2 separate regions of the Homo sapiens genome follow, and region 2 is linked to region 1. The links come from fine-mapping of genetic effects on gene expression. A gene starts in region 1. The other region holds a variant in brackets. All regions are shown on one strand. Distances are between the middles of the regions.

Region 1 (11,942 bases):
GGGGAGGGGACAGAAACGCAGGCTCTGGGCACTGCCTTACTCTGCGGGACAGCTGGGAAAGCAAAGGAGGCTGGAGACAGCTGGCAGCAAGCCAGGACGGGAGCGAGGCAGATGTAGCAGGAGGCCCGGGGACAGTGGCACCCAACAGAGCCCACGGCCCAGCTCTGCCTTCTGTCTGTCCTTCCTTCCTTTCTTGTGAGCCAGGGTCTTGCTCTATCACCCAGGCTGGAGTGCAGTGGTACCATCATGGCTCACTGCAGCCTCAGGGCTCAAGTGATCCTCCCTCCGCCTCCCAAGTAGGTGGCGCACCTCCAGGTGAGCACCACCACACCAGGCTATTTTAAAAATTTTTTGTAGAGACAGTGTGTCAATGTGTTGCCCAGGCTGGTCTTGAACTCCTGGGCTCAACCCTCCTCCCACCTGAGCCTCCTAAAGTGCTGGGATTACAGGTGTGAGCCACCACACCCAGCCATGGCCCCAGCTCATTCCTTTTACCTTGGACTCCCTGAGACAACGCAGACTCCTTAACAACTGCCCCCAAACACCAAACTCTAAGGGCTTCTGTTATGTGCAAACAGGAGCGTCCTCACTCAGACAGAAATCCGGACCAAGAGGCCAGTCGCGGTGGCTCACGCCTGTAATCCCAGCACTTTGGGAGGCTGAGGTGGGCAGTTCACGAGGTCAAGAGATCAAGATTAGGTGAAACCCTATCTCTAATAAAAATACAAAAATTAGCTGGGTGTGGTGGTGCACACCTGTAGTCCCAGCTACTTGAGAGGCTGAGGCAGAAGAATCACTTGAATCCAGGAGGTGGAGATTGCAGTGAGCTGGCGCCACTGCACTCCAGCCTGGCGACAGAGCAAGACTTTGTCTTAAAAAAAAAAAAAAGAAAAGAAAAGAAATCCGGAACAAGAGCTGGAAGCAGCAACCCACGTCCCATGTGGGCTGGGCGGCGGCGGCGCTGGTCAGGCTGAGCAACCCCATCCAGGCTGCGTTATCAATGGCCCTTGTCTGGCAGTCAAGCCACTGGTTAGATTTGGTTCCACTGGCTCACAGGGACAGACCATGTGGCCATTTAGAAAAAAGGCTTAAGGGGTAGGGGTGAAACCCTGGGACATGAGAAAGCTGGCAACTGAGCTTGGCCTGCATAGGAGGCAGGAGGACTCAGCCAGGAGGGGCAGCAGGAGGAGGGGGGCCAACGAGGCCAGCACAGCAACTGAGGAGGACTTCTCAGTCTGCAGGCAGTCCGCTGTGGCAGCAGAGGAGAAGCGGCTGAGTCCCAGCTGCACCTCTCAAGAATGTGGAGGGCGCAGATAAGACGGAAGCTCCTGTGGAGGTGGGGGTGGGGCAGGGATGTTCCAGGGCAGATGAGAGCAGGCTGCTATCGACAGTCCCCACCTCTCTCTGCCCTTGCAGACCCCTGACACTGAGCAGCCAGGGGGCGGGAGGCGCTCAGGGCGGCCTGCAGAACAGAAGCCCCTTGGCAGAGGCCCAGCCCTGGTCTTGTGGTTTGCAGACTTGGAAGTTCAAGAACTGACTCAAAGGTATTGCTTATGAGGAAAAAGAACCAAGACTATGGTGAGAAGGGGACACATACGTGGTGGAGCTCTACTGGATCCAGCCTGCAGGCCCCAAGGACGCCTTTCCGATGGAGGCAATCCCAGACCTCACAGCAGGGCCTGCACTGCCCACGCCATCTCCCGGGCTGTTGCTGTGACACACTCTCAGGGTGGCCCCAAAACATAAAGCAGTGTTCTCATGGGGGCGATTTTGTCCTGAGGGCACATTTGACAATGTGTGGAGATGTTTTGGATTGTCACAACTGGGAGGGGGCCCTACTGACACCAAGTGGGCAGAGGCGAGGGTGCTGCCGAACGTCCTACAACACACAGGATGGCCCCTCAACAAAGACTCGTCCATTCCAAAACAGCCACGGTGCCAAGGTGGAGAAGCACTGAGAGAGAGACCTTCCCAGAGGCAGAGCCTGGGGCTGCCAGACTTTCTAACCAAAAGCTCTCAGTTCACTGGCAAAGACAGTCACCAAACAGATGCCCAGGAGATCTGATGGGCCTGCGTTTACCTCCCTCCCTCACCCTGCGCCCAAGGACACAGTATATGCTCTGCGTCAGTGACTGAGACATGGTGTTTTTCCTGTATTCCTGTTCAATTCCTGCCCTGGAACTCTGGGCCCGACTGTGGACATGTCCCCTCACCTGCAAGGGACTCCATCAGGGTACTGCTCTCTTTAGCACCTGTGGGCTCTCCTCCTGGCTCCATCTTGCAGAACACCAGCAGTTGGAACAATTTCTGCTTAGGTAAAAGAAAAGGAAAATAAATCACAGCCAGGGCTAGGTACAGGGGCCAGGGGCAGTGAGGTCAGAATGCCTTCAGAGGAAACTGTCAGAACAGGCCCTGTGGGAGCTGCATCACCCAGCTGGGCCCACTCCTGTCACTAGCAATCAAGGTCCTGGCTCAACAGACACTCCCAGAAGCGGGTGTTCTGTTCTGTGGGATGCCCAGGAACTCTGGTCCAGGCTCTGCGGGTCCCCCTCCACCCAGGGCTGACGCAGAGCACAGGTGGGCGTGGCCACAGCTTCCTAGCTCCATGCTGAGGAAGCCCGCGCCCTCCAGCAGTCTTCAAATGTCTAGAGAAATTCCCATGGGTTTTAAAATTTTCTTGGTAGTTATAAGGATTTGAATATAAAAATGTTAAACCAGAAGAAAAGAACAACTTATTTGAATGGTAAAGTTTTGGAATGAGGAATGATTTTTCTAAGCCTGACATCAGATGTCTGACAAATTCAACTACATAAAAAAATTTAATGTAAAAAAAAAAAACCAAAAAGGGAGGAATACGTGCAATGCAAAGATTCATCCCTATCTGATAAAGACCTCTATATATTAATGAGAAAGGAAGGAAAATTGGCAAAGATCATGAATAGGTAACTCACAAAGAAGAAAAACCAGTAGGCAATACATTTTTTTAGGTCTCACCTCAAGTGCAATTAAGAAATGTAATTTGGCTGGGTGCTGTGGCTCACAGTTGTAATCCTAGCACTTCAAAAGGCTCAGGATGGAGGACTGACTGATTACAAGAGTTCCTGACCAGCCTGGGCAACATAGTGAGACCCCGTCTCTACAAAAAATCAAAAAATTAGCCAGGTGTGATGGTGGGCGTCTGTAGTCCCAGCTACTAGGGAGGCTGAGGTGGGAGGACTGCCTGAGCCCAGGAGGTCTAGGCTGGGGTGAACCGAGATTTCGCCACTGCACTCCAGCTGGGCGTTGGAGTGAGACCCTGTCTTAAAAAAATAAGTAAATAAAGTGATTAATTAGTAAATTTAATTTAAGCCGCCTGTAATCCCGCCTGCCAGGGAGGCTGAGCGGGAGGATCGCTTGAGCCCAGGAGTAGGAGGCCAGCCTGGGAAACATAGCGAGACCCCGCCGCTTTTACAAAAAGGTAATTTAAAGTGCAATTTTTTAGTCTGGAAGCAGATTTTTGCAAGTACCTTACCGGCAAGAATTAGGGAACAGGCCCTCCTGTTCACAGCTGGGAAGAAGCTCGATGAGCTGGGCCGGTGGGAAATTTGACAACTTACAAAGGCCTGAAGACGCGCAGCGGGGACTCAGCTCGCAGGAAGCCCCGCACGTGTCGGACCCCGGGTACGCACCTGCAGGGCCGCCTCCCCCACGCCGCGCCCGAGAGCGGCTGGGGCCTGCACTGCAAGGAGAGCGCGGGACGCGCGGGCCACGGCGGCGGTGACCGCCCCGTTCTCTCGGCCGCGCCCTCAGCCCTCCCGAATCGACACCCCAGCAAGAGAAGCCGGGGCCTCAGCGTCCAGAGCAGCTGGACTGCACCCGCTACGGTCCCCGCCCCGTCGCGCGCCGGAAACGCCAGTCTCCACCCCTGGCCCGCCCCCTCGGCACTTCCGGCGACGCTCTGGGCAGCGGGAGGACAGCGCGCTCGGCGGCGGGAGAGCGGGACGGCCCAGCCGCGGCGCCTTCAGCTCATCGGTTGCCCGCAGGCGCCGGCCGAGTCCTTCCTGCCGGGCAGGAAGCCCTGCCTCGTGGGGGGCAAGGTCGAGCCGTTGGCGCGCCGGGATCCGGCTCGAGCCAACTGAGGACCGGGCACCCGCAGGACGTGTCAGGAGGTGTCGAAGGCCCGCTGTGGGGCGGCCACGCGCGTTCCCGTCCGTTCCCCGCGGCGTCCCGCGCTTGTCCCGGGTCCCGCTCGGCTCACGGGACCCTCCAGGCCCCCGGGGCTGTGGCAGCACGCGGGTCCCGAGCGTGGGCTTCCTTGGGGCCGAGAGCTTGGAGCGCCCCAGGCGCTGCCCCCCGCCTCCCTGCAGGACGCCGCCCTCGCGTCTCCGCTGCAGAGAAGCCCTTGCTGCCCGCCTCTCGCGGGCTCTGGGCTCTTTCTCACCAGGGACCGAGCTCTCATTCGTTCAGCCTTCCCCGGGCAAGATGCACCTCCTGTCCAAGTCTCTCGCCCTTCCGCCTGCCGCAGACCGAAGGTCACGCATCTCCAGCTGGAATGCTGCAAAAGTGACGCTTTTCATCATGGGTGCAAAGTGTACAGCTGCAATGTGGACTTGTTCCCTCTTACAACGAGTAGACAGACCCTCTCTGGGGAGAAAAGAAAGGCTGAAGAACCGATTCCCATGAGAGAACCCTAAGAAGACAGCAACAGAGGGCCAGACGCGCCCCTGGAACTGGACCCTGGACTGGGGCGGGAGGGCCACAGCCTTGGGAGCCCAGGTCCCTGCCCGCGCCTCCGACAGTCCCGCGCCGCCGCCACCCGGCATCTGCCTCTGGGCCTCCACATCTCGTGCCTGGAACCGCGTTCATTGCGCACTGCACCAGTAAACACCTGAACACTCCCACCACATGCTGCACGTTTATTTGTAACAAATTAGAAGCTGTTGTAAAAGATAAAAATTAAAACACTTAGACTGGGTGGGCGAGAGGCTCATGAATGTAATCCCAGCACTTTGGGAGGCCAAGGCAGGAGGATTGTTTGAGTCCAGGAGTTTCAGACCAGCCTGAGCAACATAGTTAGAACCGTGTCGACTAAAAATTTTTTTTAAAAATTAGCCGGGCGTGGTGGCCGGCGCCTGTGGTACCAGCTACTCGGGAGGCTGAGGCGGGGGGACCACTTGAGCTCGGGAGGCGGAGGCTGCAGTGAGCCGAGATTGGCACTGCACTCCAGCCTGGGTGACAGAGATTCTGTCGCAAAACAAAAACAACAACAACAACACACACCACACACACACACATCTAAAAGAGATGATGTAGAAGTACAAGTAACCGTTTCCCTCTGCATCCCAGTGGAACGTCGTGGGTCTTCTGAAGACCCTCTCTTGCCCTGCAGGCTCCGGTACTCCAAGCACGCGAGTCTGCGCAGGAGGCGCTTCGCTCTCCGGAGCTCCCCACTGCCTCCTAGACACAGTCCCGGCTCCTTACCCCGGGCGGAGGCTCTTCCAGACGGGTCCCGACTGCCTCTGTATGCCCACTGCTGCCGTGCCAGAAGCCACTGCCCTCTCCTCGCCCCTTTCCAAATGTGCCCTGCCTCAGGCCCGTGTCATGCTGTTCCCTGTGCCGCTTTCGCCCGTCCCCTCACTCCCCGCCACCAGAACCGGGAAGGCGGTGCCCCCTTTCCAGGCCCAACTTCCGGCACTGAACCTCTAGGAGTCCGCAGCCTCCTCCGCCCGGGCCTCTCCCCGCTGGCTCAGACCGCAGGGCCAGCAGCCCCGCCCACACGGAAGCCCCGCCCATCAGGCCGACCCCGCCCCTCCTGCCTCGGCCCCGCCCTCGCCTTGGCCCCGCCTCCTCGCTGGCAGCCGGCAGGCGCAGTCGGGGTCGTGGGACCCAGGAGGGGCCTCCAGCAGGTGCCTTGGCGAAGATCCTGGACTGCGTCACAGCCCAGGGTAGCCGTCCCGCGGCCCGGCTTTGGAGCTTCCCACGGACACCCGGGGCTCTGCCTCCTCCGAAATCACCCCTCACCGCTTCCCTCCTGCTCTCCCACAATGGGAGGCCACACGCTGGGGCCCCTGAGAAACAGAATCGAAAACACAAGGCAGGACTCCAGGGACATGGGGGTGGGGGAGTGAATCCAAGCAACTCAGGACGCCCGCGAATAGCTCAGATCCTGCGAAGAGCCCGCGCCCTGGAATTCTGTTTGCTAAGGGGGTCCTCACGGTGTAGGGTGAGACAGAGAACCTCTGGGCAGTTGCAGGTGGTAAATGTCCATGATAAAGGGCAAGTTCACAGTCTAGAAAATTCTGGATTTCTTGATCCAAAAGTAGCCGAGTCCAGGCCGGAGAGGTGGCTCACGCCTGTAATCCCAGCACTCTGGGAGGCCAAGACAGGAGGATCACTCGAGGTCAGGAGTTCGAGACCAGCCTGGCCAACATAGTGAAACCCCATCTCCACCAAAAAAAAAATTACAAAAAATTAGCCAGGCATGTTGGTGCTTGCCTTAGTCCCAGCTACTCGGGAGGCTGGGGCAGGAGAATTGCTTGAATCCAGGAGGCGGAGGTTGCAGTAAGATTTCGCCACTGCACTCCACAGTGAGACTCCGTCTCAAAAAAAAAAAAAAAAAAAAAAAAAAAAAAAAAGTAGCTGAGTCTTAGAATACCACCCCTTCAAGGACTGTTTCCATGAGCCTATCCACTGAGTCTCTTACCTGCTACCCTGAAAAAAAAAAGTACGATGAAGAAATTACCAAAGGCACCCCTGAAAAACAAAGACAGCTGGGCCTGGCGCAGTGGCTCACTCCTGTCATCCCAGCACGTTGGGAGGCCGAGGCGGGTGGATCACCTGAGGTCAGGGGTTTGAGACCAGCCTGGCCAACACGGTGAAATTCCATCTCTACTAAAACTACAAAAATTAGCCGGGAGTGGTGGTGTTCGCCTGTAATCCCAGGTACTCGGGAGGCTGAGGCAGGAGAATCACTTGAGCCCGGGAGGTGGAGATTGCAGTGAGCTGAGATCACGCCATTGCACTCCAGCTTGGGTGACAGAGTGAGACCTGTGGGGAAAAGCAAGAGAGATCAGATTGTTACTGTGTCTGTGTAGAAAGAAGTAGACATAGGAGACACCATTTTGTTCTGTACTAAGAAAAATTCTTCTGCCTTGAGATTCTGTTAATCTATGACCTTACCCCCAACCCCGTGCTCTCTGAAACATGTGCTGTGTCAACTCAGGGTGAAATGGATTAAGGGCTGTGCAGGATGTGCTTTGTTAAACAGATGCTTGAAGGCAGCATGCTCCTTAAGAGTCATCACCACTCCCTAACCTCAAGTACCCAGGGACACAAATACTGCGGAAGGCCGCCGGGTCCTCTGCCTAGGAAAACCAGGTATTGTCCAGGGTTTCTCCCCATGTGACAGTCTGAAATATGGCCTCGTGGGAAGGGAAAGACCTGACCGTCCCCCAGCCTGACACCCGTAAAGGGTCTGTGCTGAGGAGGATTAGTAAAAGAGGAAGGAATGCCTCTTGCAGTTGAGACAAGAGGAAGGCATCTGTCTCCTGCCCGTCCCTGGGCAATGGAATGTCTCGGTATAAAACCCGATTGTACGTTCCATCTACTGAGATAGGGAAAAACCGCCTTAGGGCTGGAGGTGGGACATGCGGGCAGCAATACTGCTTTGTAAAGCATTGAGATGTTTATGTGTATGCATATCTAAAAGCACAGCACTTGATTCTTTACCTTGTCTATGATGCAAAGACCTTTGTTCACGTGTTTGTCTGCTGACCCTCTCCCCACTATTGTCTTGTGACCCTGACACATCCCCCTCTCGGAGAAACACCCACGAATGATCAATAAATACTAAGGGAACTCAGAGGCTGGCAGGATCCTCCATATGCTGAACGCTGGTTCCCTGGGTCCCCTTATTACTTTCTCTATACTTTGTGTCTTTTTCTTTTCCAAGTCTCTCGTTCCACCTAACGAGAAACACCCACAGGTGTGGAGGGGCAACCCACCCCTTCAAGACTCTGTCTCAAAACAAACCAATCAAACCAAACAAAACAAAAACAAACAAACAAAAAAAGACCTCAGAGAAAGAGGACTGTTGTTCAAAGAAGAGGCCGTGGGTCAACTGAAGCAAGTGGACACGCAGCCAGGAAACAGGTGACACAGAAAGGAAGGACTCCCAGTCTCCTGGCAGAAGGAGCAGGGGAGGCAGAGACCTCTGAGTTACCCCTGGAAGCCGAGGGCCTGACCCCCACAGCCGCAGGATGGAAATCCTGCCACGGCCCGAATGGTCAGGGAAGGACCTCAAGCTCCACAGGAGTTCGGAGACCAGGACAGCTTAATGGCAGCTCCAGGAGACCCTGGCAGAGACCTCAGCCAAGCTGTGCCGGGCTCCCGCGTGGCAGGATCTGTGAAGTAACAGACGGGTTTTTGGTGAGCAGGTTCCAGGTGAGACACACCAGTGGCCCTAAGAGGAGAAAATGCAAGGGTGGTAGGAAGTGGCGGGTGCACCAAGACCTAGCGGCCAGCCTGACCAGCACTGACTGGCACCTTGGTGCTGTGCAGTCAAGGAGAACTGGCTCAGGCTCAGGACATTCACTCCTGCTGCGCTGGGCACCAGGGACACCCCCGAAGGTGGACAGAGCACCACGGGGGCTGCCCTGGGAGCTCGCGAAAGAGAAGGGAGAAACACAGGCACAGCAGGCACCGCCTGCCAGGTGCCAGAAAGCAGCGCGTGGAGGCCTCATTAGAAGCAGAGAGCAGGGAGCAGTGACTCAAGCAGCACTGCCAGCGGGTCCTGAAGTGTGGGCAGGAGTTTGGGGAGGGCGCTGAGGTGGGGAGGCCGCTTGGCTCTCAGGGAACCCAGCCTTGTCGCACGGATGCTGGGCTTCCTACTCTGGGGTCCTTGTAGCCACTAGGGTGTTCTAACTCAGAAAAGACACCACAGGTTTGGGATTGGAAAAGGGCTTGAGAAGCACACAACCCCAGCAATAAAAATGGGGTCAGAGCAAACACTCAGAATGGGAAACCACACGCCGGCGCGGACGGGGCCAACAGACACACAGAACCACCCGGAGTGACCTCTAGCACATCGTGTGGAGCAAAAGGAGTGCCAGGAGGGCGGGCAGACGAATCCATTCCTGAGAGGCCCGATGGCAGACAGGGCCCTCCAGAAGCTAGAATACCCATCAGCTGGGGGAGGGGAAGGGAAAGGGAGGAGAAGCTCTGGAAAGTTCCATGCTGTGACCTGGGGGGATTAGCAAGAGTGTAAACATGTAAACAGTCAAGCCGAGTGCTTAAAATTTGGGCATTTTCGCTATGTAAATTATACCCTAATTCAAAAAAATCAAGAACACCATATCCCAGGAAAACTTAATATAAAATATTGACACCAGCACGGATCTTGGTGAAGCTATTCAAGGTTATGGATGAGGAAAGAATGACCAAGGCATCCAGGCAGAAGAGGAGCGTTTCAGAGAAAGGGCAGAGGCCAAGGGCTTCCCAGTGGTGCAGGCTCAGCACAGTCCTGCAAGGAAAAACCTAAAACCCAACCACATGCCCCAAGCCCTTGCTATTCGCCATGCCCTCCGTCGAGTGTAATGGCTACAGAGGGCATTCTAGAGCTTTCAGGAGCTCAGCATGCAGCCCCTCTTGCCTGCCCCCGTGGAGCCCTCTCCCCAGATGGGAGCTGGGCTCAGGGTCCTGCTGGATGGGCACATGGACCGAGGTCCTGGGAAGCCGCCTGCTCCCACTTGCATCCTGCCTGTTACTCTCGTCACCCAGACGCTGTTCACCCAGGCTCTGCAGCAGGCGCTGGGCTGGATGGTCTACCGTGTAAACGAGGGGATTTCCCATCCCACGGGCTGCTTGAGGAGCAGCAGCCTCACAGAATGGCCATGCACAGAGTGCAGGGCGGCAGGACGGGAAGGCCCTGCCTGGAGTCAGGCACACGAGTGCCACAGTAGTGGCATGATTTTGCCCACCTGAGACTCAAGGACTGGGACACCTGTCCCTCCTCCTCCACCCACGCTGCGGGGAACTGCATGGCTCCTCCGGGCGGGGACCATAGCTTTCCGCCTCAACGTACCTGGGGCTCGGCATGCTGCGTTGAATTTTGGAGTGGATGAGGAGTGAGGGTGTGGCAGGGCGGCTGGAGCTGCCCAACTGCTGAAACTGCTGCAGGTGCCACAGCGGCTGGCTCCCTGAAAGCGTCCTCCTGCCTCTGAGACCGTAGCGCAGGAGGGTGCGAGTGCACCTCCGCAAGGCCTGACGCTGCTGATCCACTTCCTCTCCCCACGATGGGGACACACTTGGCGACAGTTCCATCTGGGGTAAAAGACCCACCAAAAGGTCGCTGGCATGGGCACTCCAGGGACACCAAAGTGGAGTCTGGGAGACCCCTCGGCTTGTGCGGGGAGCATTCCTCCCCGAAATGCTCGTCCACTTCTGGTTACAGCAATCTTTGAGGGCAGGGAGGGTGGCCAGCAGGGGGCATTGTGGAGCAAGCACGTGGGCCTCGGATCCAAGCCTGGGTTCAAATCCGGGCTGTGGGACGTCCTCACCAAGTCTCGATTTCCTCCCGTAAATGAGGGATGCTGGCGCCCCTCTCGCTGTGGGGGAATAGGGCTTCCAGCACTGCTCCCAGCAGATCTCAGACCTCAGGACGTGAAGGTTATTTTAGGGACAAGCTAACCATGAAGTCTATTTAGTGTAACAGCAAGAGCTGCTAAAAACGTGCACAGACATTCCTTGTACAGCCTGAGTATCCCTTATCCAAAATGCTTGGGACCAGAAGTGTTTTGGCGGCCGGGAACAGTGGCTCACGCCTGTAATCCCAGCACTTTGGGAGGCCGAGGCGGGCGGATCACGAGGTCAGGGGATCGAGACCATCCTGGCTAACACGGTGAAGACCCGTGTCTACTAAAAAAAAAAAAAAAAAATTAGCTGGGCGCGGTGGCGGGCGCCTGTAGTCCCAGCTACTCTGGAGGCTGAGGCAGTAGAATGGCGTGAACCCGGGAGGCGGAGCTTGCAGTGAGTCAAGATCGTGCCACTGCACTCCAGCCTGGGCGACAGAGCGAGACTCTGTCTCAAAAAAAAAAGCTTTGGCTTTTTTTGGGGAATATTTGTACCATAGTTAGCAGGTGAGCCTCCCAAATTCCCACATCCGAAATCTGAAGTGTTCCAGTGAGTATTTCCTTTTGTGCGGCATGTCAGCTGCTCAAAAGTTTTGAATTGGGGGTGTTTGGATTTGGGATACTTAGCCCGTAGTGCTGAGGAGAAAATTTCTGTCTCTTCTATTTTTCCTACACTTCCCAAATTTCTTTAAAGAGTATGAATAAATGCTATTGGGTAAAAAGAAATCTGTTTAAAACCTGTGATCTTTAAAGACTTGACCAGGGTATCCCACGCTTGAGGCACTGCCTAGGCCCAGTGAGCCAAGCCCAGCCCGAGTCGGCAGCGCGGCCCCGCCCCCGCAAGCCCCGCCCCATGCCGAGGGCATTTCCGGGCGCTCTAGGCAGCTCGGAGGACCCGTTCGGAAGACTGGCGGGGGACCCCAGGCGAACCCAAGGGTGGCGGGCCAGGGCCGGGCGAGTGCCTGGCGTTGCTCGCGCGGCTGGGGGCCATGGCTGTGGGGCCTCTCTGGGAGGGGTCGCGAGGCTGTGAACTAGCACGGGGCTACGTTGTAGAGAGAGAGATGGGGCGTCACGGAGGCAGGGGGTGCCAGGCAGGGCGCGGCTGCCAGAGGCCCAGAGGCCGAGCTGGGCCCTGCAGGTCTGAGGTGCAGGACCCGATTCTGGCCCAAGCAGGGGCGTCCCACGGCTCGAGCTGCCCGTCCAGGTGGTGTCTGAGGAGAGCCTGGGCAGCGGCCTTGCAGAGGGCAGGCCAGCAGCTCCTGCTTTGAGGGCTTGGAGGAGAACAGATTCCCGAACCAGGCCCATGATCAATGTATTTGGGTATTTGAACTAAAT
Region 2 (11,942 bases), 40 kb before region 1:
TGTAGGGGATGAGGTAGGGGGCCATCTGAGCCTGTGTGGTCCCTTCTCCAGAGCAGCAGAGCGTGTACTTAGGAAGGACCTGCTAGGTGCCCCTGCCCTCAGAGGCTCTGGGAGAGAGCTGTGTGCAAGCCCTGGGCAGGAGTTCACTGGCCTGGTCGTGTGACCTGTGGGGCATCCTGACAGCCAGCCCTGTGCTGCAGAGGTCAGTGGGACTGGGTTTGGATCTGGGTCCCCGCCCAGCGTGAAGGGGCGCTGGACCACGAAGGCAGGGAAACCAGGGGGAGGCCGGCAGGACAGTCAGTGGTCCTGCTGCCGCAGCCCCGTGCAGGCTTAGACCGCCCAGCCTTGGGATGAGCGCCGCTGGGGGCGGAGGCCGCGCTCGGGGGCGGGGCTGGCCGCTGGGGGCGGGGCGGGGCTGGCCGCTGGGGCGGGGCCCAGCTTGTCGCTCTTTCCCGGAGGCTGGCAGATGCGCGTGGTGCGGCTGCTGCGGCTCCGGGCGGCTCTGACGCTGCTCGGGGAGGTCCCCCGCCGCCCGGCCTCCCGGGGTGTCCCGGGCTCGCGCAGGACGCAGAAGGGCAGTGGAGCCAGGTAAGGTGTCCCAGTGAGCAGGCGGCGAGGGCCCTGAGCACCGGGCTTGGGTAGGTCCAGAAAGGGGAGTGGCAGGCCTCGTGGGACGGCCTTGCCCTGCTTCCGGTTTTCCCAAAAGTCGGGCCAGGAGAGCATGCGTGCCGCGGTGTGACCGGCCCGCCTCCTGCCCGGGGTGTACAGGCCCCCCCATGACGTCGCCCTTGCTTCCCCAGGCACCACCCCACCAACCCTATTTGGGGAAATCTCCCCTCTTTTTTTCCGCTTGTGGTTTCATCATTTGTGTAGCTGTGCCTGGGCCTCAACACTGTAGGGTTTGGTTAGGTACTTTATAAAAAGCTTATGTTGCTGTGCATGGTCTTCTGAGACCCGCTCTTTCCTGGAGTCGGTTCCCGGGTTGTCTCCAGGACCGATTCTGCATGGCGGCGGGCGCTCACTGTCATATCTACATCACCAGGCACAAGCCGCATGGATCCAGTGGCCCTGGTGGCCGTTGGTGGTCCCAGGCGCTTTCCTGGAGGACATGTGAGAAGCCCTGCCGGCGCATACTGGGCCTGGGGTAGCCGCATGGGGATGGGTCTCTGCGCATGAAATGCTGGAGTTTCCGAAGAGCTGGAGAGTTGACAGCCTCACTGGTGCGTGGGAGATCCTGCAGGAGTTCCCGCCAGGTCTCGCGGTTTATCATCATTCACTTAGTGCTTCCAGCGTGGCATGTCTCTGTGACCTGGTGGTGCGCTATCAGCATACCCATTCACAGCTGAGGGCCTGCACAGCTGCCTAAGGCCATGCTGCAGAAATGTCCTGTCTGCCTGCAGGAGCTTGGGACCCAAAGAGAGCCCCAGATGGGGCAGGGTGTCTTGGGAGGAGGGAGTTCTGGCCTGCGCTTGGAGCTGGGGCTGGCTGTGGGCCCTGCATTGAGGCACATCTCTCCGAGGGTGCACAGGCAGGTAGGTGCTTTCCAAAAAGTGCTGCTGAGCTGCAGTCGCCCAGGTGGACAGGTGGGTTTGGAGCAAGGTCTCTGGCTTTGAAAGCCAGCTTGTGTCTGATGGTGGTGCTTGGTGCCCTGGTCTCTGCAGGGGTGAAAGAATGTCACTACAATGTGCAGCCCTCAGTTGGGCTTGAGCGCACACCCAGTGGTGCAGCCCTGCCTGGCCGCTGGCCGGCAGGTTGTTTCACCTCAGTGTCTTCATCTGTGAAATGAGACTGGTGATGTGACTACCCTAGAGGCTTTGTGAAGGACTTGGCAGTCAGGGTCACTGTCAGTTCTTTATTTTTATTTTTATTATTATTATTTGAGACAAAATCTTGCCCTGTCACCCAGGCTGGAGTGCAGTGGTGCAATTTCAACTCACTGCAACCTCTGCCTCCTGGGTTCAAGTGATTCTCCTGCTTCAGCCTCCTTGAGTAGCTGGGATTACAGGCACCCGCCACCACGCCTAGCTAATTTTTGTATTTTTAGTAGAGACGGGGGTTTTGCCATGTTGGCCAGGCGGGTCTCGAACTCCTGGCCTCAAGTGATCCGCCCGCCTCGGCCTCCCAAAGTGCTGGTATTACAGGCGTGAGTCACCGCGCCTGGCTCCTATCAGTTAGTTCCGAGATACACGTGGTTTCCCATTTTCTCACACCCGACATGATCCATCTTCCCTTATTCTCTAAGAAGGCGTTGTCTAGGTTTGCATCCTTCAGGGCACTTAGTGGTGCAGCCTCCTACCAGCCCCACCCTAGACATGCTGTATCAGGGCTGGTGGGCTCTCTTGAACTCCTAAAACCTGTAAGAAAGGTGAGGCTGGTCTCACCTGACGTGGAAAAGCTCTGCAGAGTCAGCAGAACCCCCCTCTCCCCGAGTCTCCCTCCAGACTCCAGCTGCCTGCAGCATCTGCCAGCTAGTTTTTTTGTACTTTCGCCATGTTGGCCAGGCTGGCCTTGAGCTCCTGAGCCTGCCTCAGCCTCCCAAAGTGCTGGGATCACAGGCGTGAGCCACCACGCCCGGCTCCACCCTGGAAGGTTCTTGAGCCCGTTAACTTCTCCCTACTTTATCAGCTCCGTCTCTACGTCTTCTAACCTTGCCCATTCCCTCCTCTGCAGAAACAGCCAGAAAGGCCCTTTCAGAAATGTCTGTTGCACATGCTTTCCCCTCTCAGACCCTTCAGAGACTTCCTGTTGCTCTGAGGACACTCATCCCAGCCGACCAGGCCCACCAGGCCCCCAACAGCACTACCTGGCTGGGGTCACGTGCAGGTCTCCTGGCTCTGGCAGGTGGGGGTGTGATCTGGAACCTTCTGTCCTTGTGCGTCTGGGGGAGGCTCAGAAGGTGTGCCCATCTCACTCTCCCCCATCCTGATGGTGCTCCCACCCTCTCGCCAAAGCCTCTCCCACTGAGGCCTTTGCACTGGCCATCCTGGGTGCTGGACTTGCTCTTCCCGCAGCCCTGCTGACCGAGCCTGCCCACTGCCTGCCAGCCACGCCCCATCTCGCTCCTCTTCTCCCAGGCCCATCTCAGAATCTAGGTTCAGTTGAGCCCTTCGTATGGGTTTTGGTGATCTGCATCCGCAGGACCCAGCGCAGTGCTGGTTCAGGGCAGGCTTGGGCTTGCCTCAATGGATAGATGATGACTGGCCTGGAGAGTTAGGATGGGCTGTAGCCGCCACGCTGGCTGTGTCCCCCCACCCCCTCCAACACCCCCCCAATCTCCAGAGCTGGGCTTGCCAGAAGGGGGCGCCCTGGGGAGGGGGACCTTGGCAGGGAGCCCTGTGGAGCCTCACTGTGTTAGTGCCTTACAAAAGGAGCCCTTCCCTGAAAACCCCTGAGGCTTCTGGCTTCAGGGCCTCCCCTCCCTGCCCCGCCTCCTCCACCCCGCCCTGCCTCTTCCACCCTTCCACCCTGCCCGATCCTCTGTGGGCGGCGGTCCTGCGCCCTGCTGTGGTGCCTCTCCACTGGCTGCACTGCTGGACCCCCTTCCACCCAGCTCCTCGGAGGCAGGGCTCTCTCATAAGCAGCCAGGTCCTTTATTTAGCAAATGAAATGGTCCCATGGAGAGGTTCCCGAAGATTCTAGACCGGCTCTGAAGGGACCCATCTGGGGAGAGGCCCTAGAGCCTGGGAGAGGCACGTTGCCTTTCCCACTTAGCTGGGCTTGCCCTTTCCCGCTTAGCTGGGCTTGGTGGGATCCGTGACTCAGCAGCACACGGGCCTCTGCAGGTGGGGGGCATGGGCGGGTACACGGGCATGGGGTCTGAGGTCAGGTAGGGTTGCCTCCCTCTGCAGGCCTTGTTTTCCTCCCCCGTGAGGTGGAGGCCACACTGCTCACCTGCTAGGAGCCACAGGGAGGAGCCACTGTGGGAGCGGGGAAGAGGCTCATGCAGGGCCTGGCCCAGGAGAGTGACACGTCCTGTCTCCGTCTTTAGGTGGGAGAAGGAGAAGCACGAAGACGGGGTGAAGTGGAGACAGCTGGAGCACAAGGGCCCGTACTTCGCACCCCCATACGAGCCCCTTCCCGACGGAGTGCGTTTCTTCTATGAAGGTAAGGATGCAGGGAGCGGCTCCTCCCCAGCCTGCGCTTGGTTCCCTGGGCGTGGGCTCCCAGTGGGCATCTGGCTCGCTCCCTCAGCCCCCCTGCAGGCTTCTGGCTATGAGCGCTCTGTGCCCTCTTCTTGCAGGTGATGCGTGGGGGCTGCTGACCAACTGACCCATGCTCAGAGGGTGGCAGTTCGGGGGCTCCCGTCCCTGCCTTTCCTGCTGAGCCTGCACTGGCTGTGCCTGTTGTGTCCAGGACCCTCTGGGCAAAGCGGACCCCCCCTCCCTCCCCCCGCACCACTGTGTTCCCTGTGTGTTCTGAGTATACACAGTACGTACACTGCGTGTACACACATGGATCACAGAACGGTCACTTGACCCCAGCTTGTGATTCTCAGCAAGAAGCGGAGCCCGTGGTTGACATGAGCGCTGAGCCACCCTCAGAGGCAGGACCCGGGGGCTCTGGGGCAGCAGGGCCCACACACCCCTCCTGCCCTTGAGCCCTCCTCTCTACCCCAGGGCCCAGGAGCTTTGGCTTGGCTCTTGTGCTGCTGATTTTAGCTGCTTCAGCCTATTTTCTTCATCTCTGCTAGAAGGCATCCTTCTAAGAAAAGCAAACCTCTTCTCCCCCAGGGCAGGCCCCCACGCCATGCTGTGCCCCTCCCACCAGCCCTCCCGTGGGCCCCCTGCCGAGTCACATGCACACCTGAGTTTGCTGAGCTCCTTTGATGCAATGTTTTGTTCAAAGCCTGTTTCTCCAAAGCGGTACTGGAGCTTCCACAGGGACAGAGGTTCTAGCTGTGTCTGTGGGGGCTGCCCACGGGAGGCCATGGGACCTTACTGAGCGTCTCGCGCTGTGCCCCTGGCCTGGTGTAGCGGCTGCCTCGCCTGCCCCACAGCAGCCCTGCAGGACCTCCCTGGCCAGGAGGGACATGGCAGGCGAGGACTGCTTATGCAGGGCCATGGTGGACAGTCCGGGGAGTGGTGGTGTCGCGTGGGGCCCAGTGGGGCCGAGCCTCCACAGAGGGGCAGTGGGAGCTGAGCCCCTCGGGCCTGTGCTGCTGGTCTCTGGGCCTCTCGTCCTCTGTCCTGAGAAGCTAGTTTGGGGAAGGATTGCTGCTGTTTATCAGAAATGCCTTCCTCCTTCTTACCAAATGATTATGCATTTATTTCTCTAAAATTTTCTTATGAAAGCTTTTCAGACGTGCAGTTGAAAGAATTCCTGGTGAACACCCTCGTTCCCACCACGAGCCTCTCACTCTGCTCGCCTGCTCCCAGCTCACCCCCCATCTCTAAACCACACTGATCTTAGAATAAAATGCAGGGAATGGTGGGACAGAGGCCGCAGAGTTGTAAAAGGGTACACCTAGTTATTCAGTTTTCTGCTTTGAAGCCTTAACTTTTATTTTACTTGTGAAATTTTGTGGAAATTGGTGTGTTTTAAAATTGTACATGTTCCATTTTCATGTAATATAAATGTAGTAGCAACGTTAAGTGGTAAAGGAGGAGAAAGCAGTAGCGCCTGAAATCTTCTGCAGCTTTCTCACGACCCGCTCCCAGATCACTGTGGTCGCCACCTCCACGCAGGTTGATTGTCGTGTGTCATGCAGAACATGCTTCTGAACTTACAGAAGAAGGCCTAGCTTCTTGCTCTTGGCATAGTACGCACGAAAGCGTAGTTTAAAGCAATGAGGTCATGTCAGCTGGAGGCCGAGCCTCTGGCCGCTCTCTCATACGATGTGTCTTCCGATGCCTGCAGGAAGGCCTGTGAGATTGAGCGTGGCAGCGGAGGAGGTCGCCACTTTTTATGGGAGGATGTTAGATCATGAATACACAACAAAGGAGGTTTTCCGGAAGAACTTCTTCAATGACTGGCGAAAGGTAGGTACCCTGGGCGGCCGCCACAGCTGTCCTGGACCTGGCTGGCTAGGCGTCTGCGGTTCTGCAGTGCTGCCTCTGAACGCCCCTCGCAAGTTCTCGGTGGCCCCTGTGTGACCACTCACAGGTGCCGTCATGGCTCTTTGCAGCTTCGAGCTCCTGGGCTCAAGCCATCCTCCTGTCTCGGCCTCCTGAGTAGCTGGGACCATAGGCGGTGCCAGTGTGTCCAGCCTAGTGCACCTCAGACCTTTCCCTTCCCAGGCAGGCTGTGGATGTGGAGGCCGATTTGTGGTCCTTACTCCATGGACCGCTGAAAGGACAGGGGTCTGGCATATAAGAAGGAGAGTAGAGGAGGCCGCATGCCATTTCCCAGCCCCCAGGAAGACATGCTTGGCGAGAAGCTCTTTGGAGGGGAGGGTGCTGCCTCAAGGCTTTTTCCTTGCTCATTTTCAAGGTGACTGCCCTTCGCCCATGGCCTGACTGATTTTATGTGTGTGCCGCGGATTCTGTGCCCTCCGGGGTTTCTGTCTGCCCCACACCTGCGAGGCTCGCCCCTGACTGCTTGTCCCGCAGCATCTTCCTGGCTCTGGCCGGGTCGCGTTTCCTCTGTTCCGTGACTCATGCTAGTCCATTTCCCTATTCGTGGGTGTTTGATTAATTCCTGTTTTAGGCCTTTGCATGTGTAAAGCTGCCATGAACATTCCCACGTGGGTGAGGGCACATA[T/C]GTGTGAGTTGCCTCTGACAGGACTTGGGGTGAAATTGCTGGGTCACGTGTGTCCAGCTTACTAGCAACACCAGGCTGAACTGTCCACACGCCTGCCGCGGGTGCGAGGCACCTTTCTAGTGGGCACAAAATGACACCTCGCCGTGGGTGTGGTTTGCGTTTCCCTAATGACAAGTGATATTAAGCATCTTTTGGTGTACTGACGTGTCATTTCAGTATTTTCTTTCGTGAACTTTTGTCTATTTAAAAAACTGAGTTGCTTGCGTATTCCTCGCTCATTTATCGGAGTTTTAAAAACGCATCCTGGGTGCAGGTTCTTTGCCAGACGCACATGCTGTGAATGTCATCTCCCAGACTTTGCCTTTTCACTTCTCAGTGAGGTCTCCAAACAGAAAACTGTAACTTAGTTATGCCGTTTATCAATCTGTCTTTTATGGTGAGTACTTTTGTGTCCTGTTTTAAGTCCATTATCAGAAATATGATTTGCAAAAATCTTTCATGGTGTTTGTAGTTTCTATTTGCGTTCTCTTAACAATGTCTTTGGAAGGTCAGGAGTTTGGAATACTGATGAGGTCCCACGTTTCATGTTTTGTCACAGGTTTGCTTTTGTTGTTTTGTCTAAGAAATCTGCTGAATTCGGCAGCACAGAGATTTCCTCCTATGTTTTTCCTAGAAGTTTTGGTTTTAGGTTTCCATTGAGGTCAGCTTGGTTTAGGTGGAACTCTGAGTTAATTTTGGTTATAGTGTGGGGTAGAGGCCGAGGCTCGTGTGTTGCATGTGGGTGTCTGACTGCCCCGAGCCAGCTGCTGGAGCCTGTGCTTCCTTGTCCCCTGTGCAGGCTCCGCTTCTGGACCCTCTTCTTTGGCCTGATGCCACCCCTCTGCCTTTCACGACAGCTTTGTGAGGTGGCACCAGCTGCCCGGCATCCTCATTCTCCCTCTGGTCAGCACTTCTTCCAGTCACTAGCAGAGCTAGGAAGGGAGGCAGTGTCACAAAGCAGCAGAACAGGAGTGGGTGGCACATCCGGCGGCCCCGGGAGACACAGGGACGGACCCTGAGCCCGTGGTTGTGGCCGAGCAGGGCTCCATCCTGGCACAGATGGTGTCGTACCTGAGCTCCTCGGAAGAGGCGGATCATCCCCATCCCACAGCGAGACACGTTTGACAGCAGCTCCTGAGGTCTCACAGGCCTAAGTGGCCGAGCCTGGACTGGGACCGTGAGCTGGTGCCCGCAAGCCTGGGCTTTTGTCCATGGGCTGTGCAGAGTTTTTGTTGTGTAGGAAACGAAAGGAGAAACAGTTGCCTGTGATCTGCGGCTCTCCCTCAGGTCAGTGTCTCCTGTTCCCGCGTCCTGGCTTTTCCTGGGCACTAGTTTTCGTGTGAGTGTGATCAGTGTGCCTGTAATGTTTTCCCCACTTAGCATTTTATCCCGCTTAGTCTCCACACGGGTAGATCATCGTCAAACTGTTTTCTGCTGTGCTTTCCAAAATTCACCTTGAAACTGAATCCCCAGCACCACAGGACAGAGGGAGGGCCTTTAGGAGCTGATTGGGCTGTGAGGACTCCACCTTGCTGCAGCCCTTAGGATTAATTTAGGGCCTTAGGGCAGGGCTGGGTGGAATTAGCTGGGCCCCTTCTGTCCTTCTGTCCCCTCCACTGTGTGAGGACAGCCTTCAGGGCATCCTCTCAGAAGCAGGGACTGGGCCCTCCATAGACGTCAAATGCTGGGACCCTGATCCCAGCCTTCCAGCCCCCAGAGCTGTGACTATGATTTACAACTGACCAGTCCCCGGTATTTTGTGGCAGCAGCACGTATGGACTGAGACTTTGCCCTCGCGAATCCCGTCACGTTCACCAGATGAGCTCCCGACCATGTATCCTGCTCTGTCCGGTCATGACGTTTCTGCAGTTGCCCTTAGTGCGGTCGTCATCCGGGTTTTCATACTGGAGAGTTTATTTAGGATGGATCTCAAAGTGGAATTATTGGGTGCAAAGGTTTTAGCCAGTTTTACTACTGACTTGTTGTGAAGTTGCTTTTGGAGAACTGTGCCCTCCGCTGCCCCACCCAACTCCATGCCTGCAATAACAGAACCAGCTCTATCTGTGGGGTCTGCGGGGAGAGGCTCTATTTACGGGGCCGCAGGACCGTGCGCAGGTTCTGCCTATTGCACACACGCCTCCGTCGGACATGGCGAGAGCGCGTTTCTGTCCGTCAGACATGGCGAGAGCGCTCTGCATGTCTGTCCTTCAGACATGGTGAGAGCGCGTGTCTGTGGTTTTTGCAGGAAATGGCGGTGGAAGAGAGGGAAGTCATCAAGAGCCTGGACAAGTGTGACTTCACGGAGATCCACAGATACTTTGTGGACAAGGCCGCAGCCCGGAAAGTCCTGAGCAGGGAGGAGAAGCAGGTTGGGCTGCCTCGAGCGTTGTGTGACCTGAAGTGGCCCCTGGGAACGAGAGGCCGGCCTGGCCCAAAGACTGAGAAAGGCCTGTGGCCTTAGAGAAGCCCCTTCTCACAAAGCTGCTCTTTTCTCGTCAGCCTTAGCGCCCCTGCATGTGCTTAAGTGTCGTTCCGCTTCCCCAGAGCACATTTGAGAGTAAACCCGGTTTGAAATGGATAATTTACCATCATTGATCAAGGGTGGGTTCCCAGACGGGCCGTGGGCTGAGGGCGGGGCTTGTGCAGGCCAGTCGGCTTCTTGCTGTTCTGTGCCATGCGTCTCCCTACATCTAACAGGAACCTGCCGTGCTGTGATCTCCATGTGGCCTTCTCAGGGATTCCCTTAGCCCTCCTCCTCCATGGCGGGCAGCCACGCTCCCTCCACCTGGCTTTACTGCTTAGGCCTAAAACAGCCGAAGTCTGTGCAGGGGCCGGGGAGTCCAGGCCATGGGGTGGTTAGGCCATGGCTCTCGGTGCCCCCTGCAAGCCCACCTGCACTGTCCCCTGCCCCTGCAACCTCCATGGATTGTGAAGGGCTTTGAGGGTCCAGCTGAGTTAGCCAGACAGAGCAGGGTGGTCCCGGGTTAGCAACAACGGACTGAGGCCTGTTCTCTTCTCTTCACTGCTAATGTCCACTGACTGTTTTATTAACTCAGAAGCTAAAAGAAGAGGCAGAAAAACTTCAGCAAGAGTTCGGCTACTGTATTTTAGATGGTCACCAAGAAAAAATAGGCAACTTCAAGATTGAGCCGCCTGGCTTGTTCCGTGGCCGTGGCGACCATCCCAAGATGGGGATGCTGAAGAGAAGGATCACGCCAGAGGATGTGGTTATCAACTGCAGCAGGTGCGTGGCCGGGCGGGCAGCAGGCGGGCACTGGACCCCCGCCACCCGGGTGAGGCTGGCTTTTCTTCACCTCCTGGGAGAGGGAGGCACACCGAGAAACATGTGGTTGGTGACCCCCACACCATTCCTGTGGAGCTCAGCCTGTAGGCGTGGCCGGGCAAGGGCGGCCTTCCCAGGGTGCTTCCCACGGGGTCGGAAGTCCTCGCCTTGCTATGGCTGAGACTTTCTCCCGCCAAGGACACCTCCATGTGGTTTTCATATCCCACACCATCTGGATGGCCCAGTAGCATTAGGTGTTTTGAACTTATTGGAGGGACATTCCAAGTGGTGGAGAGGGGACTGCTGGGCCACATGTTGTACTGTGTGACCACAGGGTGGAGTAGGGACCCTGCCTGCAGGACCCCCAGTGGCCAGGCTGTGTGGGGCAGGGCACTCGTCGTCCCAGTTGGTGCTGAGAGGTCTGTGCAGAGCGGTGCCTTGCTTGGGTGGCCGCCCAGCCTCCTGGTGCACTGTGGCCTTCCTGTGTGTGCAGAGGGTAGATTGAGTGGCTGCTTTTGTCTGAGCTGCCAGGCAGGCCACCTCTGATGCCAGACTCGGTCAGGAGCCATGCCACCACCATAGCCACCACGTGGGACGGTTGACCAGAGCAGCTCCTTTTGCTTGCATTCCAGAGAATAAGGTCTCCAAGTTATGTTTGGGTCGTTGTTCTGCTGCAGGGACTCGAAGATCCCCGAGCCGCCGGCGGGGCACCAGTGGAAGGAGGTGCGCTCCGATAACACCGTCACGTGGCTGGCAGCTTGGACCGAGAGCGTTCAGAACTCCATCAAGTACATCATGCTGAACCCTTGCTCGAAGCTGAAGGTGAGCGCAGGGCTTGGCAGGGTGTTTCCTCCCCAGGAGGTCCCCCTGAGGACGCCGGCAGGGAGGTGTGTAAGCCGGGCACCGGCAGAGGCTTCTGAGATGGGCTGGGAGTCGGCCAGCCCGTGCTGAGGTCATGCTGTGCCAGCAGGCACAAGCCCCAAAGCCAGGAGTGGGCATGGGTGCTCACTGCCGGCATCACCCAGCTAGATTTGCTGCCCCAGCCCCTGACCACGGCACCACTGAGTGGAGAAGCACGAGGTTTGGGGGAGGGAGAGTTGACAGCCTCCTCCGTTATTTAACAGGAATGTGAATGTTTTCTTTCCTGTTATTTTCTTCGTTTAGGGGGAGACAGCTTGGCAGAAGTTTGAAACAGCTCGACGCCTGCGGGGATTTGTGGACGAGATCCGCTCCCAGTACCGGGCTGACTGGAAGTCTCGGGAAATGAAGACGAGACAGCGGGCGGTGGCCCTGTATTTCATCGATAAGGTATGCGGCCTTCTCGCTTCCTGGCGGCTCTTCATCCTGGTTCTCCTGGCGAGGACTCCCAGTTGGATGGTGCAGTGTGGCGACGTGGGCCTGTGTGTGGGGTGGAACCTCATTCTGATGGGGGGGGTGTGTGCATGTGCACACGTGTGTGGGTGTGAACATGTGTGTAGGGTGTGCATGTGCATTGTGTGGTGTGTGTGCACTTGTGCGTGTGGTGTGCCTGTGTGTGGCATGTCTGTGTGGGGCGTGCATGTGTGTGGCGTGCATGTGTGTGTGGCGTGCATGTGTGTGGTGTGCCTGTGTGTGTGGCGTGCATGTGTGTGGCGTGCGTGTGTGGTGAGCATGTGTGTGGCGTGCGTGTGGCGTGCGTGTGTGGCGTGCCTGTGTGTGTGGCGTGCGTGTGTGTGTGGCGTGCCTGTGTGTGTGGCGTGCATGTGTGTGGCGTGCGTGTGTGGTGAGCATGTGTGTGGCGTGCATGTGTGTGTGGCGTGCCTGTGTGGCGTGCATGTGTGTGGCGTGCGTGTGTGGTGAGCATGTGTGTGGCGTGCGTGTGGCGTGCGTGTGTGGCGTGCCTGTGTGTGTGGCGTGCGTGTGTGGCGTGCCTGTGTGTGTG

Alleles and levels. Alleles are on the strand shown, and positions count from the first base shown. SD is a standard deviation of normalised expression in the study named.
With allele C in place of T in region 2, the expression in caudate of the gene that starts at base 3,862 in region 1 is lower (moderate effect, 0.56 SD a copy in GTEx).

Evidence for each region. PIP is the estimated chance that this variant, and not a neighbour inherited with it, causes the effect.
Region 2: its variant is fine-mapped to the expression of ZNF696 in caudate (GTEx, PIP 0.98). The same link has a PIP of 0.9 or more in nucleus accumbens.

Annotation. Positions count from the first base shown.
Region 1 is chr8:143,283,337-143,295,278 of GRCh38, reverse strand. It overlaps ZNF696 (zinc finger protein 696), which reads right to left and starts at 3,862. Exons shown (of 3, transcript NM_030895.3): 1 at 3,512-3,862; 2 at 2,214-2,307. The coding sequence starts at 2,277. RefSeq lists a silencer at 3,608-4,327 and an enhancer at 3,798-4,373.
Region 2 is chr8:143,323,386-143,335,327 of GRCh38, reverse strand. TOP1MT (DNA topoisomerase I mitochondrial) reads left to right here and starts at 448. Exons shown (of 14, transcript NM_052963.3): 1 at 448-588; 2 at 3,989-4,104; 3 at 5,857-5,978; 4 at 8,984-9,106; 5 at 9,795-9,982; 6 at 10,699-10,843; 7 at 11,186-11,329. The coding sequence starts at 467. RefSeq lists a silencer at 291-750 and enhancers at 951-1,000, 540-1,224, 2,900-3,433, 11,608-11,942. The variant T/C (reference allele first, on the strand shown) is at 6,700.